Regions from separate parts of the Homo sapiens genome. Here all the other regions are linked to region 2. Evidence: fine-mapped expression QTL. A gene starts in region 2. Each other region holds a variant in brackets. All regions are shown on one strand. Distances are from middle to middle.

Region 1 (5,231 bases), 53 kb after region 2:
ACGTATTTTAAAACAGTTTCATCACCTGCCCTCCTCTCCACACCCTCTCCCCCGTTTTCTCTTCTATCAATGGTGGGTTCTTCATGTCCATGGTGTCTGGGCTTTTCACAATCCTCACTGCTGTTTTCTATCATGCTACCGGGCAGGGCAGGCAAAACAAATTGAGATTTTTTTCTGGTTAAAATCTCCAAACAAAGTTGTGAAAAAAAAAAACCCAAGTAATTTTAGAAATGTCATTTTTACCTAAGAATTGACTTGCTTGAGTTTCTCTTTATGGATTGACTATTACCTCATTGAAGGACAAAAGGTTAAGATTTTTGGCAGTGAACTTCTTTAGATGTCAGACCATTGCTTGGGCTATGCAGCAGATTCATTTCCTTTTCAGTCCCCACAACTTGCTGCTGTTGCTTTCCTGCTCATCACTTCTGTGAAAATCATTGTCCTTTTCCTTTTTCTCTTTTTTGGTCTTTGTTTGAACTGTCTTCTGCTTTCATTTCACCATTCTGATGGAAATCTAAGTGTTGTTTTGTGGAACAAGTATCCCCTTTGATGTCTCTAGGCACTTCCATGCCCAATTTGTGACAGAATTCTCTGTTTTCATTTCTGCTTCTTGGAGACCTGATACCAATTTGTAAACAGTCTCATGTATGGTGCTCTCATGACCGATGTACTGCAGTGAGTGAGTGTGACGCATCACAGTCCTACATGCAGGGCAGGTGTTGTTCTCTTACAAATACTTTACCAGGCAACCCCTACAGAATGTGTGCAGACACTTGGTCACCCTGGTTGCATCAATGAGGTGCCCACTACACAGGCGGCAGGTGATGTGGGCCTTAGTGTCCCACAGCTTAATCCTTCTGGTCAACATCTTTGGCTTTTCCTTTGGATGTCTGTCTGCTTGTTTTTCTTTCTGCCTTAGCATGGAGGCCCCACGTCATCACTCTGACTCACTGATTCTGCCTCACTCTGCACTCTGGTTCACTTCTGGCCCTTGCTGTTTTTCAGTTTTCTAGCACAGAAACAGTTACTTTTGAGGGATGGCCAGGAGTCCCTGCTACATTGTGAAGCTGTGATCTTGGTCTTGGGGGTACAGGCAGGGGCACTCCAGGAGAAGGAAGGGGTGCCACTCCTTTCGGATCCACCCCCAAGAGGAGGAGAAAACACCTGTCAAGAATCTAAAATAAAGACATGGAAGTCCTCAGGTAGTTTTAATGGTTCCTGATAGTTTTCCTAATAACCTAAATTTCCATCATGTTTCCTCTATCCAGCCTCTTTTTCAACTTCTCTTTAATTAGAGTCCCTGGTCCATCTTTATAATTACTCCTTCACACACAATCAGTACCCTTTCTTACCCTCTCTCTATCCCTCACACTCTCAATTGAGCTCTTCTGGTAAAACTTGCTGCTGGTTAAATCTCTGTGCCTACTCACCTCTCCACCCATGCCTGCGCCCAAGCAGCTGAATGTGGCTTGAGAAAAACTCACAACCATCTTAACAGGTCTCACTTTAGATATATGATGTCACATCTGAAGTGGGCCTAGAGGGCTGCCTGGCAGTCCTGCCCCATTTCTCTGAGAATGTACTCGCCTACTCTCCAAGACGACTATTTCACGCTTTTTCCTCTCACCTCAAACCACCAACATTTCTCTTTTCCTTTCCAGTTTTTTTATTTGACCGAGAATAAAAGAAATATAAAGATCCCCTACCCACCAAATCTGCCCACCTTCCTGCACCATGCCTGTTTCTCTGCCTTCCCTTTTTCCTACCGTTTCAGGGGAGGATGTATCCAAACCAGCCTGTGCACTGGACCTTGTCTTCTTTTAGTCATTATGAAGAAGCCAACCTGTCCAGTATGCACCAGGCTTAGTTTTAAGTACCTTATAAATTAACTAATGAAATCCTTACAACAGCCTTGTGAGGTAGGAATAATATCAGTTTTACAGACGAGGAGGTTGAGGCACAGCAAAATTCAGCAACGTGTGCAAAAATCACACAGCCGTAATAAATTTGTGTGGCTTCAGAGTCTATGCATGCAGCCACTGTATAATACCATGTCTCCCAGGATATTCTCCCGCAGCTGCTTCTGTCTTTCCTGCCTCATTGATTGCCCCTTTCGATGAGATCTGACCCATTAACTTACAAGCAGGTTCTATTTTCTATATTCTATTTTAAGACCCTACCCTTGACCCTGTGTCTCTCTCCACCTGCCCCCTATTTTCTCTGTTCTCCTTTTAGCCAAATTTCTGGTAAGAATTTTTTGTTTGTTTGTTGTGTCTTCTTTTCTAATCTTTTTTTGAACCACTCCAACCTGGCCTTTGTCTATATCATTCCTCCAAAACAACTTTTGTCAAGGTCCCCCGTGCCCTCCCAATGTCCAAGCCAGAGGGACACCCTCAGTCTCTTACTCGGGCCCTTGGAGACGCTTTCTTCATTTGCCTTCCCTGACACCACACACTTCTTGGATTTTCTCCCACCCTGGTGGTTACTCCTGTTTCCTGTGTGGATCTTCCTCTGCTGGTCACCCTCTAAGTGGTGGCTTTGCCCGGGAATGTGGTCTGGACCATTTCCCTTTCTGTCTATATTCACCTTCTTGATAATCTCAGCCAGTCTCAAGGCTTTGAATATTATTAATAAATTGACAATTCCCAAAATTTATCTCTAGCTTTGAAACTTCCCTAGACTTCCAACATTCCCTTGGATGCCATAGGCCATCACACAGTTACTGTATCTCAAATGCAAATTCTTGTTTTGACTCCTTATCTTTTAGATCCCGTTTTCAGTCATGTGGGATCTTCCTCCTGCATCTCACATTGTACTTATCAGCAGGGTTCTACCTTGAAATTACATCCCCGATATGACTACCTCTCTCCTCTTTCCAGATTGTACCCTAGTCCAAAGCACCATAATCTATTCCTGGTTTTTAAGTGGACTCCTTGTCAGCCTTCTTTTTTCATCTCTTGCTTTGATATAGCCTGTTCTCCACCCTGCTGCTAGAGTCATTCTTTAAAAATATAAGTCAGTACTACCTGTTCCC[C/A]AAAAACCTATTGAAATAAATAAAAGACTTAAAAAAAAAAAAAGTCAGATCTGGCCCCTGCCTACTTCTTCCTACCTCATTTCCTGTATTTGCCCTGTGCCTCCCAGCCCAGGCTTCTTTGCCATTGTTTGAACACAGCGAGGCCACACCTGCCTCAAGGATTAGGTCCTTGCCATTTCCTCCACTGGGAATGCTCTTCCTGTAGATGTTGACTTAAATTAAACAAAAGAATGCATTATTTTGGTGTGGCCTCTGTTCAAACTTTACCTTGTCAGAAAAGCTTTCTTTAATCACCCTTTCTAAAATAGCAGTGCCTGGCGTTTTCTATCTTCTTGCCAGTTTTAATGAGAGTGTAGAGTCACCTGCCTATTGGTGTATCTGTTTGTTTGCTGTGAGTCTCCCTGGGTGGCACATGGGCTCCACGAAGGCAGAGACGTTATTGCTTTTATCCCTAGTGTCTGCAACGGCACCCGTTAGGGGGTTGATACATATTTGTTGAATTTTTAGAATAGTGACAGACATTAATCCTACAAAGTTAAAGGACATATAAGAATAAAAAAAGATTAAAGGTGATTTTTTTTAAAAGTTAAAAAGCCTCTGAATGATAGAGGAAAGGTAGTATGGGTGGAGAAAGTTGTGTAGAAGCAGAAAAGGAGAGTCTCACAATTCTTGGGTGGCTCCAGTTCTTCTTCTTCCCTTCTTTTCTCCACCATAGGAGGAGAATTACCTGTTGCAGTAACTGCTGTGCCGAGAGTCAAGGGGAGAGAGCAAAGGGAAGGCCTTCTGTGAACTTTGTGGGCACTTACCAGGGGCTTCAGAGGTGCATCCATGGTGAGGATGGGGCCTTGAAGTATTACTAGGAAATTAACATTGGTGAAACAAAATGAAATTGGGAATCATATGTTCCTTAAACCCACTCCACTTGGAGCATTGAAAATGACAGCTTGTGGTGAAGTGCCATGGCTCACGCCTATAATACTAGCATTGTGGGAGGCCGAGGGAGGAGGATGGCTTGAGTCCAGGAGTCTGAGACTGTGGTGAACCATGATCACGCCACTGCACTCCAGCCTGGGTGACAGAGCAAGACTCCGTCTCAAAAATAAATAAATAAATAAATAAAAAATAAAAAAAAAAAAATCAAGAAAACGACGAATTGTGAATGTTAACTCTTACAATGAAGATAATGGTAATTTTTAATGTGCTGCCTTTCTGACCACTCCTGGTGAATATCCCACTTCCCAATTCCTTTAGAGTTGGATTGAGAATGTTGATGCAATTATTTCCAGTTTCTTGGATTACTCTTCCTTAGAGAGAACAAGATCCAAGAGTGAATTTATGTGCTCCTCACTTACCATTTTTGTGAGTTCTACTCACTGATGTGGATGAATAGAAAAAGCTGTGCCAAAATAATGAATTGTCTCCTTTAACATTATGAGCTATAAAGGGATGGGAACAGCTTCTTTTAAGTTCTGTTAGTATTTCACAGTGTGCTAACTGATAAACTTTTAATGATCTCCAGAAAACAGCAAGGGGATGTTTACTACCCTTGTAAATATAAATAACTTTAATAACAAATCATATTACTTGAACTTTGACTCCCAGTAAACATAATACCTGATACTTATCTGACATAACTATGGTTTTGAAAGTTTAAACTCTAGGACATATGGTGGGTGTATAATCCTGCAAAGTTCACATTGTCTGACTTTGGCTATAAAGATGTGTTTCAAAAGGCCAAACAATTATTTTGTAGTGTTTGGATCATTTCCAAGGATTCATTTGTTTCAGCATAAACTCATTATATGTTTATGCTTCCCTTTGATTTCTTTTTGCCTAGAGGGACAAGAAGATGAGGATGAAGAGGATGAAGAAGATGAAGATGAAGAAGAGGAAGATGAGGAAGAAGATGAGGAAGATAAAGATGCAGACTCGCTGGATGAGGGCTTGGATGGTGACACTGAGCTGCCAGGTTTTACCCTCCCTGGTATCACATCCCAGGAACCAGGCTTAGAGGAGGGAAACATGGACCTGTTGGAGGGAGCTACCTACCAGGTGCCAGATGCCCTCGAGTGGGAACAGCAGAATCAAGGCCTGGGTAAGAGTCATGTGTATTTCCCTTTTCCTCCCTTCTCCCCTCCTTTTATATTTCTCAGATGACAGCCTTCTTTCATTGCCATCTATTGTAAAGAAAAATGGA
Region 2 (5,231 bases):
GTTTTTTAAATAGAAAAAGGCTTATAGAATAAGGAAATAAAGAAATGAAATATTTTTGAACAGCTGTACAATATGTTTGTGTTTTAAGCTGTGTTATTACAAAAGAGTCAAAAGTTACCCAGCCGTGGTGGCATGTGCCCGTAGTCCCAACTACTGGGGAGGCTGAGGCAGGAGGATTGCTTGAGGTTAGGAGGTCCAGGCTGCAGTGAACTGTGATTGTACCACTGGACTCCAGCCTGGGTGACAGAGTGAGACCCTGTCTCAAAGAAAAAAAGAGTCAAAAGTTAAAAAAAATTTATAAAGTAAAAAATTCAGGTAAGCTATGGTTAATTTATTATTGAAGAAAAAATGTTTATGTCTACAGTACAGCCTAAGTGTACATTGTTTACACTACAGTAGTAGTGTAGCATACAGTTATAGCCTACATAACTACAGTAGTGTAGTTATGTACAATAGTATACAGTTATGTCAGTAGTGTAAGGTTACGTACATTACAGTAGTGTACAGTTATGTCCTAGGTCTTCATATTCTCACTCATCATTCGTTGACTCACCCAGAGCAACTTCCAGTCCTATAAGCTCCATTTATGGTAAGTGCTCTATACAGATGCACCATTTTTTATCTTTTATACTGTATTTTTACTGTATTGTTTCAATGTTTAGATATAGAAATACCATTGTGTTACAATTGCCTACAGTACTGAGTACAGTAACATGCTGTACAGGCTTGTAGCCTAGGAGCAATAGGCTATACCATATAGCCTTGGTACGTAGTAGGCTATGCCATCTAGGTTTGTGTAAGTATACTATTATGCTCGCATAACAACAAAATTGCCTAAGGATACATTTCTTAGAATGTATTCCCCTAATTAATCAATGCATGATTATACATAGATAATAATTTCTAAAGGGAGGGGGAATGGGTAACAGTGCATACCTGCTGGGCACCGTGGCACATGTCTATAATTCAAACACTTCGGTAGACCGAGGCAGGAGGATCGCTTGAGTCCAGGAGTTTGAAACTAGCCAGGGCAAGATAGGAAGACCCCATCTTTACCAATAATAATAATAATAATAATAATAATAATAATAATAATAATAATAAAAAATTAGCCAGTCGTGGTGCCGCATGCCTGTGGTCCCAGCTACTTAGGAGGCTGAGGTGGGTGATGGCTTGAGGTCCCAGGAGGAGGTCGAGGCTGCAGTGAGCCATGATGGCGCCACTGCACTCCAGCCTGGGGGAAAGAGTGAGATCCTGTCTCAAAAACAAACAAACAAACAAACAGAAACCAGTACATACCTGTGCATTGTGTTAGGTGTGGGGGTCAAAGGTGAGCCAGCTTTTGCTCTGACTTCAAGGTGTTTATAATTAACTACAAAAGGGGACTAAGGTATTATGAAGAAGGGAGCTAATAAGCACAATAAGGGACAAATGTGAAGAGTGCTCTGCAAATGTAAAATGCTGCGTTGTGGAGGTTGTTCCAAAACGGGCCTTTAGATTCCGACACCTCTTTCCACACCATTAGAAGTAACAGAAAAAGAAAACAGTCCTTGAGAGGCTCAAGAATGGAGGACACAAATTCCCGGTGGCCACGCGAGCCGGATGACCTTGGAGAAGTTACACAGCCCTTAGCCTTAACCTCCTACCCTGGTAAATGAGAACTACAATATCTACCCTTCTATCGTGCAGATTAAGCAGGTAAAGTAATGGGCAAAGCATCTACTCTTGTGCCTGGCAGGAGTAAGGGCTCAATAAACCTTACTTGTGACTAGCACTAGTTTGCAACTTCTCCGACGGACTGAGAAGGGACATTCTGTGTAGAGTTACTTTAAGGGTCCTACTTAAGGGCACCGCCAAGCCGTCCATAGTTTCCACAAGGAACACTGCAGTCTCAGATTTGCGCTCCTTGCCTGAACCAAAGACAGCAAAATTGAGGTTTTTCTCGTGTAAACGGTGCCCTGGTCTCTTCCGCGTAGATAGGGAGGCGAGCTGCCGCAGAAGCTCCCGCTTAAAGAGGGGAAGCGGAGCACGGGATCTCCGAGGGGTCCCAGGTGCCGGGACTCCAGCAGAAGCCGCCCCCGCGGGAGAGCGGAGGCGGGGAAGTGGGCGCAGGGGGGCGTGGGCGACGGCGTCGGCTGTCAGTGCCAGCAGAGCCAGGGCGGGCACACCTACTCACCGCCCAATCCCCGGCCGTAGCCGCGGCCTTATGAATAAGCAACAAAGCGAAGCGCCCTCCCCCTAGCGTCCCAGACAGCGGAGGGAGTCGCCGCCGCTACCGCCGCCGCCGCCGCAGGGCCCGCCGCTGGGATGCCGAGCGCCCGCGCCGCCGCTGCCTCTGTCCTCCGCGCGCTGCTCAGCTGAAGGCGCACAGGTGAGGACGGGCCCGGCTCCGGCCACTTGGGCGGCCGCGGCTGCAGACGTGGCGCCGGGGCAGGGACGGAACCGGAGCCTCAGTGGCGTGGGGTCGCTCCGCGAGCGTAACAGTCCCGGGAGCGTTGCAGCCCTGGGTGCGCCAGGCGTGCGCCCCGATCCTCCTCCGGAGCGCGGTGCCCAGGTGTGGGGTGCGCGGGGGCAGCTCTGGGCGCGCTGGGCGCGGCGCGCAGGCCTCGGAGGACTCACCGCACTCCTAGCTCCAGCCCAGCCTCCCAGCTCCGCACCAGCGAGCCGGCCTTTGTGCTGGCGGAGCTTGCAGGGCTGGCTGCTTTTGTGTGGGCTTTTCTTTCTCTTTCTCCCTCCGCTCGCAATCCCACAGCAGTGAGAGAGAAGTTCCCGAAAACAACGGTTTACTCCTTTCAAACCGTCGATCGCAGTGTCCCCAATGCCACTCAGAGCCTAACAATCGAGGAGCGAATCGTTGCTGCGGTCACCACCGAAATATGTCCTGCCACTTTGCAGAAAACAAACAGTTGAGTGTTTAGCGCAGAGATGTCGAGCCTCCTTGCTCAGCCCCTGACTCGTCCCCCAGGACGCGGCTGGAGGACGCTCCTTGGAAAGGTCACTTAATTAGAAAGAGGGCCTGCGGGTTAGACCTGGGGGAGGCGAGGCTCTGCTTGAGACTCCGGAATAGTTGGGAGGTGCTGCCGGAGGTGCCCAAATGTCTCATGTGCCTCGTGGTCACTGACAGAATCTGACTTGTGTAGATTCCAAACATGTAGAACCTTGGCTGGCGAGGAGGCAAGCAGGAGTGAACAAAACAGGACCCTTAAGAGTTTGGGTTCTCAAAGATGAGATGATCCCGAGGATCCGCCTAGCACTTGGCATCCAATTTCAGTGCAGAACTGATGTGGAAGAGAGGAGAGATGGCTGCTTTAAAGTGTCTGCCTTCTTTCTTTGGAAGTTTTAGTTTGAAACTTGAGGGGGAGTGGGGAGTGGTTCACAAAACCATCCCTAGGGTTCTGAAGGATCTCTTCTCCAAAGGGCAAAAATTCTTGAGTGGTCAGAATTCACATGCCTTCTCTTTATTTTGGTGTATTTCCTTGATCACAAGTGATGCTGTTGGGCTCCAGGGAGTCTCCTTTTAGCCAAGCATCTACAGTCATTGACTGACTTCGGCACGTATGCCAGTAGAACCCCACAGTAGCATCTATTGAAACACACAACCGGCTAAGGTTTCACAGTATCAGAACATTGCTTCTTTTACACACAGAGGTTTAAAGGTACTCTGACTTGCTCTTATGAATAAAGTGGTTTTTTTTTTGTATTTGTCACAATAATGAACCGAGCACTTGTGCAGCAGACAGATTTGATATTAGTTGAGTTTATTCATAGAAACTCCCAAGGCTCACCAAGTCTAAGGTAGCTACAGCAACGGAGCCAATTAGAGAGATGTGAATTTGTCTTTGTTTTCATGGGAGGCTTCTTACTACATATTCCGGAGTTTCCTGCCAGACCTTTACAATATTATAATTTGGTATTACGGAAATGGTTCGATGCTAAATATAAGTGTAGAATCAAAATGAGGAAAACGGGTTTATCTGCTGTGGAAAATGTCCACTCCCCACCTAAAGGTGTCCTTTGCCCTTTATTCTGTAGATGTTTGTCTGAAAAGTGGTGTATGGAATTGTATTTTTGTTAATTGAACTTAAAAAACTTCTCACATAGGGAAGCTGTCTATGCAGAGGGAAACTGCTTTTAATTTTTGTAAAATGAAAACTCATTCCCTAAGCAAGATGTGAGGTCAATCTTATTTTTCCATATTGTGTTTACTTGGTGATTATAAGAGAAGTATCTGAAGCTAGTTTCAGCTTCCCTTTAAATGTCAGCTACTTAGAGATCTAGCCAAGCAAATGGCTACATTTGTGTACCACAAAAACCAGAAATGATATGTCCAATTGGGTCACTGAAATAAACTGTCTGATGGATGGAGAAGAGTTTGTTGATCAAGATTCATCAGGATAGGATTCTGCAGACAGCAGAACCCTCTCAGGTCACATTGTCTACATGATAAAGCTGAAAGGAGAAGCTCCATGAAAGTACCTTGGGGAAAAAAATGCTACTCCATTTGTGGCTGATGTTACAGATGCTCCAAATTGCTCACATTTCTGTATTTGACAGGAATGCATGTCAGTAGCATGCTAGTATGTCTTCTATTGCATGATAATTTACTTTTGTTTCAAACTGCTTTTATGTCTATTATCACTTTTGTGTGTGTTCTCCACCCTTTGAAAAAATATAACCAGCATTATTATTTCTACTTTGCAACAAGAAAACTTGAGTTTCAGTGATTTGCCTAAGGTAGAACTGGAACTCGAAGAAGCCTGTTTTTAAATCTTCAAGTCCATCTCCTTTTACCAGGGATGAGATGATATGCTAGGGGTGATAAGCACGGATATCTTCATTTGTCTACATCACTAATTTGTAGAGACTGAAGCTCCTGGGCTCAGTATGTAGAACTTAGGTGTGGTCTTCAGGGATGGTAAAGTACTTTTTACTGGTATTTAGTTTCCAGTAATTTAGCTATTTTGACCCCAGCCTACTTACCCTCTTCCCTGCCAGCTCTGGGGCTGCTTTCCTCCTGGGGGACCATGCTTTTCTTTGTGGTTACTTACTCCTTCTCCCTCCTTCCATTGTGATGGAACATGCTGCTGAAAGGATTGTTTGTCATTCAGCTATTTAATTTATGGTGAAGTATAGCTGCAGCCTAGATCCTAAAGCCAATATAACAGACCAGTGATGATTGTCAGTAGCACAGTGAATCAGAAACGTGGTACCTTAATGCCATTTGCCACAGC
Region 3 (5,231 bases), 160 kb after region 2:
TTTCTGTGACTTCTTTTGTTTACTTTTTTTGAGACAGGGTCTTACTCTGTCACTCAGGCTATAGTGCAATGGTGCAATCATGGCTTACTGCAGCCTCAAACTCTTGGGCTTAAGTGATCCTTCCCCCTTAACTTCCTGAGTAGCTAGGACTACAGATGTGTGTCAGCACTCTCAGCTATTTTTTTTTTTTTTATTTTTTGTAGAGACAGGGTCTCACTATGTTGCCCAGGCTGGTCTCGAACGCCTGGGCTCAAGCTATGCTGCCTCAGCCTCCTGAGCTGTTGGAATTACAGGCATGAGCCACTGCACCTCGCCATTTTCTGTTACTTTTAATAGTAGGTACCAGTGAACTAACTTTGCATTTAATGAAACTTAAATATCTGGGAAAATTCTCCTAATACCTTTAGGGGATTACTTTGGTTGATCCCTAGATATGAGTTACTATCTCAGATCTGTTTGACTGTCTTGATTTGTAAAGGCTAATAGGAGAGTTTCTTATTCTTTGACAAGGGAACAAAGCTCAATATCTTGTTTTTCTTGAAAACAAATCCAAGAAACTTTTTTCTCAGGGCTGGTATGTATGAGGACAACATCTGGTCTTAGATGTGCAGCCTGCAGAATCAAGCAATGCAGCTCTGTGTCCTGGTGCTGAGCAGTTTCTGTGGCCTTTTGACAGTTCTTACGGGCAATCGTCAAGCCACTTACCTTCCTTAGCATATAAAAAATAAAGCAAGTTTCCCATAGTTGCCATATCAGCACAAGGCCAGATTCTGGAGGGCCTCAGGGACAATGATATGCAGAATTGAGAAAATTCAGAAAAACTTAAGAATAATTATCATTCCAGTCCCACCCGAAATGTTAACAATAATAAACATTGGTAACATTTTGGTCTGTACTTTTCTAATCTTTTTTTTCCTATGCATTTATGATATGCAATAAATACTTTTATTTTTATACAAAATCAGGATTATAATTTACATAGTATTTTGTTACCTCTCTGTAGCTATGTTTTCCCATGGTTGTTTTAAGAGGAATAGAAGAAAGGAAAACAGCTTGTGAAAATCCTAAGTTGTATTTGAACGAGCAAGCTGTGTTTCCTCATTAAAACATTTATTTCGCATTTGATGGTCCATAACTGCCCATTTACCTCAGGATGCCTCCATAGGATGAAAATAAGAACAGAGTTGAAAGAAGTCTCCATAAACACAACGCACATTGGCAAATGTCATATTCTTGTTCCTTAAGGGATTAGAGAACACTTTCTTCTCTTTGTCTTTGCCCCCAAAGTAAAAGCTATAAGCTTTTATAATTAAATAATAAGACTGAATAACCATAAGCGCAATTAATATGTAGTATTATGAGAAATACTGGGGAAAAGGACACTTACTGTGTGACTTAAATTGATTAAAGGGTTATTCAGTTCAACTCTCTTGAATCTAATTAGTATTTTTGTGTCATTTATTATTATAGGGCACACATTTTTTACATTTGATTTAACTTGACTAAAATTAAATGAGCAAATGTTTATTGCTATGTCCATTGTTTTCCTTTCTCTGTCATTGTTAAAAAGAGGAGCCATGGCTTCTGCTTCTTCTGTGTATTCTCCATTAGACCTTCTTCATCCACCCTCTTCCCCATCCCTTTCAGCTCTGAAGGGTCTATAAATGAAAGTGGGTACCAACTGATTCAATAGGACTTATATCTTACTAAATAACGTTTTATTGTCTTTGTTCTATGTATTTGCAGAGAAATTGTAAGTATCTTTAAAACCAATTAACAAAGCCCTGTGGGTCTTTCAATCAAGACCTTTGTAAACATCTCTACTAGCCCATACTCCCCCAAACTTCTTGCACATGGTAGAAGATGACATTAAATAAAGCACATTATAAGGTGCAATGAGCTTTATTCTAAAAATATTGTCTGGATGTGAAAGTAAGTTCTTGTTCATAAAATGTTATTAGTAAAATGTTATTAGATTAAAATTATGGAGTAAGCATTTGGCAAACTGATTGACTCTTCACTGGAAAGACCAGGCTTTTTAGCACACATTTCTGTTCATGCTTAAGGTCAGAAGTCAATCAAAGGCAACCAGAAAAAAAAAAGGCAAATAAATGAATTAGGGACATAATTATTTTCTGTTATAAATAATCAGGATCTTTTCAAGTTTAATTATGGGGAGTTGTTGAATAGGCTAGTTTTATGCCATGCAAATAAAATGTGAATTTCAAAAATCTTAGTGAAACTCAAATTTATTTTTACTTAGCGATAATAAAATCACAAATACTTCTTGAGCTCTTGCTGTAGGCCAAGTGCTGTGCTCAGTACTTAACATGGATAAACTCGATTGAGTATCACAATTCAAAGAGGTAGGCACTCCAGGTTACCCTTGACTCTGCTGATGGCAGAAACCTCACTTGTAATAAATAATTATCTTTGACAAGAGAAACATAAAACAAGACCTGTAATAAATGATTTGTTCACAGATTTTTCATGTCATAGAAACTATATAGCATTGATTTTTAGCTATGATTTTGATTCAGTTTTTAAAGTATTTAATTTTTATTATATCAGCCCACACTGAACATTGGTTTTTCAGCAGATAATGCATCTTCCAAGTGCTCCAAGGCGAAGAGCCGCAGAGAAGAATACTGCATCTTGAGTCATACCCTGAAATTACTGAATGAATTACCTGTGGCCATGTAAACACT[CTG/G]CTTCAGTAGGTAGAGTGCAACAGACAATCCAATCATTCAGAACTAAGTTTTTAGTTAGCTTCTGTTATTCACTGAAGTAGTTTGCAATTACAGTTGTCTCTAGGTATCCATGGGGGATTGGTTCCAGAACTCCCTGCTGATAACAAAATTCATGGATGCTCAAGCGCCTTACATAACTTGGTGTAGTATTTGCGAATAACCTATGCACATCCTCAAGTATACTTTATATCATCTCTAAACATATAATACTTAATATGTAAATGCTATGTAATTAGTTGTTATTACTGTATTTAGTGAATAATGACAAGAAAAAAAAGTGTGTACCTGTTTAGTACAGACACTACTCTGTACTGATTTTTTTTTCTGAGTATTTTCCATCCAGGGTTGGTTGAATCCACAGATGTGTAACTCACAAATATGAAGGGCTGACGGTACCTAGTAGTTAATTCAGATTTATCGCAGTGATCTAAAGTAATTTTGCAGTTTACAAGCATTTTTTTTTGGTTCTAAAAGAAAAAAACAAAACGAATATTGGTGATGTGATATTTATGTAATGTGATGATATTATAATGGCCACGTTTTAAAACTTGAGAATGTCCTAAGTTCACACACTGTTGGTTTCTAGATCCACAAGGCTTCTGTATACAGTTCACGGTCCTCGGCATTGCTTCTTGTAATTTTTCCATCCCAAAGGAGAGCTACTGTACTGACTGTACTTGTGGAATGCAGCGCTTCATTAAATTAAGTTTATTAAAATGCAATGTGTGGCACAAGACCTGTTCCTTGTTTAAAGATTTAGTAGAAGGTGGTTTCTTTGGATGCACTCTTCATTTATTTCAATGAACGCAAAATGCATTGTATCAAGAGACGTTTCTGCAAAGGGCAGTAAAAAATAAGAAAAACAACCATGAAGAAGAAAACAACTATGAATAAACCAATTCTATGGGGGATTGTTTTTGTGCTTCTCAAAGTGTGTGTGTGTGTGTGTGTGTGTGTGTGTGTGTTGGAAGGTGGGTAGAAGGTGGGGGGGATGGGTGTCTGTGTATGAGAGAGAGAGAAAGAGAGAGAGCGAGTGCACTAAGTGAATATATCCTTATGGTCTAAACTGGGATACAATTGAGAGTGAAAGGGGCACAGCTGGGTGCGCTGGCTCACATGGATCACTTGAGTCCAGGAGTTTGAGTCCAGCCTGGGCAATGTAGGGAGACCCTGTGTCTACCAAAAATTAAAAATTAGCCAGATGTGGTGATGTGCCTCTGTGGACCCAGATACTTGGGAGGTTAAGATGGGATGATCACTTGAGCCTGGGAGGTCAAGGCTGCAGTGAGCCATGATCATGCCACTGCACTCCAGCCTGGGTGATGGAATGAGACCTTATCTCAAAAACAAAAAAGTGGGGACACTGTTAATTACAATGGGATAACAGGCATAAACTGGAATGATCCTGGGAAAATAGGAACCTAAGGGACATCTTAGAGGGAGTGTATCAGACACCTCTTAGAGGAAGTGTAACAGACACTTCAAATCCTATCTTTTATTCCAGTCACCTAAGTAGCATTTAGTTTGGCACAGGCTTCCACCAGTTTGCCAGGGTGTGGGTTATTGTGGGGTTTCACTTGTCACTCACACATGTACAACCTGGAAATGTTAGGGGGGCTAACCTGGTGGGCCTTAACGAATGAGGATGGAAACTGATGGATAAATCCTCCCACCATTTGTTGCTCATGTGGCCGGTTCTCAGATACGTTTCATGAGGCTTCTCAGAATAGTCCTTAGGATTGAGCACTGGTTGTCCATTGCAATGCTACCTTGAAAATTCATCCTTGTATTGGCCTTCTCTCTTTCCTTGTTTCACTGCTACTTGCATGCAAGACTTTGTCTGAGGTCCTGCTTTCAGGGGAACTCAGGCTACAATAATTGGGATTTTGGAGTGAGATCACTCACTGTTCAGAGGTAATAAGGACTCCATTTTTGGAGGTGGGTGGAGTGGTGGTATCTGGCCAGCGCCATCTCAGTTACTAAGACTCTTACTGAGGTGGATTGGGATGAGGTGCAGGCAGAGGCAGAGCATTGGGTGGTGTGATAGCCGTGGTCCTTAAATAGTACAGGAGCAATGGTAATAACAAGGATTGAGCTGGCTGGTGTGTTTAGACTGCTTTGGAGGCTTTGAAAAAAGCAAATGAAGAAAATGACAGGCTCAGGTTTGTTAATTAGCAACATAAGGCATGTCATGAAAGCCAGAGGATCTGTATGGAAGTGTATCAGGAGACTCACATTGGTGGATTGTGCTGTCATTCTCACACTCAAGGTCACCCTCCAAGCAAGCAATCTAGATCAGGCAAGATGTTAATGAGCCTACATCAGGCAAGGGTGAGAAAAGTCTAAAGTGGATAGTGGAGGAGGGAGATGAAGAATATTATGATCTTGGGATCAGCTGGAACAGTAGAACTGGAACTTGTTCCACTAACCCTCTTGAATTAAGTCTTTGCAGAGACTATGGCTGGCCACCACCATGAAAGG

Which allele goes with the higher level. Alleles are on the strand shown, and positions count from the first base shown. SD is a standard deviation of normalised expression in the study named.
For the expression in visceral fat of the gene that starts at base 2,233 in region 2, C is the low allele of the variant in region 1 and A is the other (moderate effect, 0.42 SD a copy in GTEx).
As copies of CTG replace G in region 3, the expression in testis of the gene that starts at base 2,233 in region 2 goes up (small effect, 0.26 SD a copy in GTEx).

Evidence for each region. PIP is the estimated chance that this variant, and not a neighbour inherited with it, causes the effect.
Region 1: its variant is fine-mapped to the expression of ARMH4 in visceral fat (GTEx, PIP above 0.99).
Region 3: its variant is fine-mapped to the expression of ARMH4 in testis (GTEx, PIP 0.98).

Annotation. Positions count from the first base shown.
Region 1 is chr14:58,096,622-58,101,852 of GRCh38, reverse strand. ARMH4 (armadillo like helical domain containing 4) reads left to right here. Exons shown (of 8, transcript NM_001001872.4): 5 at 4,872-5,129. It also overlaps the pseudogene LOC100420347. Among named protein-coding and RNA genes, the nearest start is that of ARMH4, 53 kb to the left of the region's middle. The variant C/A (reference allele first, on the strand shown) is at 3,035.
Region 2 is chr14:58,149,215-58,154,445 of GRCh38, reverse strand. ARMH4 (armadillo like helical domain containing 4) reads left to right here and starts at 2,233. Exons shown (of 8, transcript NM_001001872.4): 1 at 2,233-2,371. RefSeq lists silencers at 2,039-2,108, 2,001-2,295, 2,189-2,408, 2,509-2,698.
Region 3 is chr14:57,991,786-57,997,016 of GRCh38, reverse strand. No RefSeq gene overlaps it. Among named protein-coding and RNA genes, the nearest start is that of SLC35F4, 130 kb to the right of the region's middle. The variant CTG/G (reference allele first, on the strand shown) is at 2,709.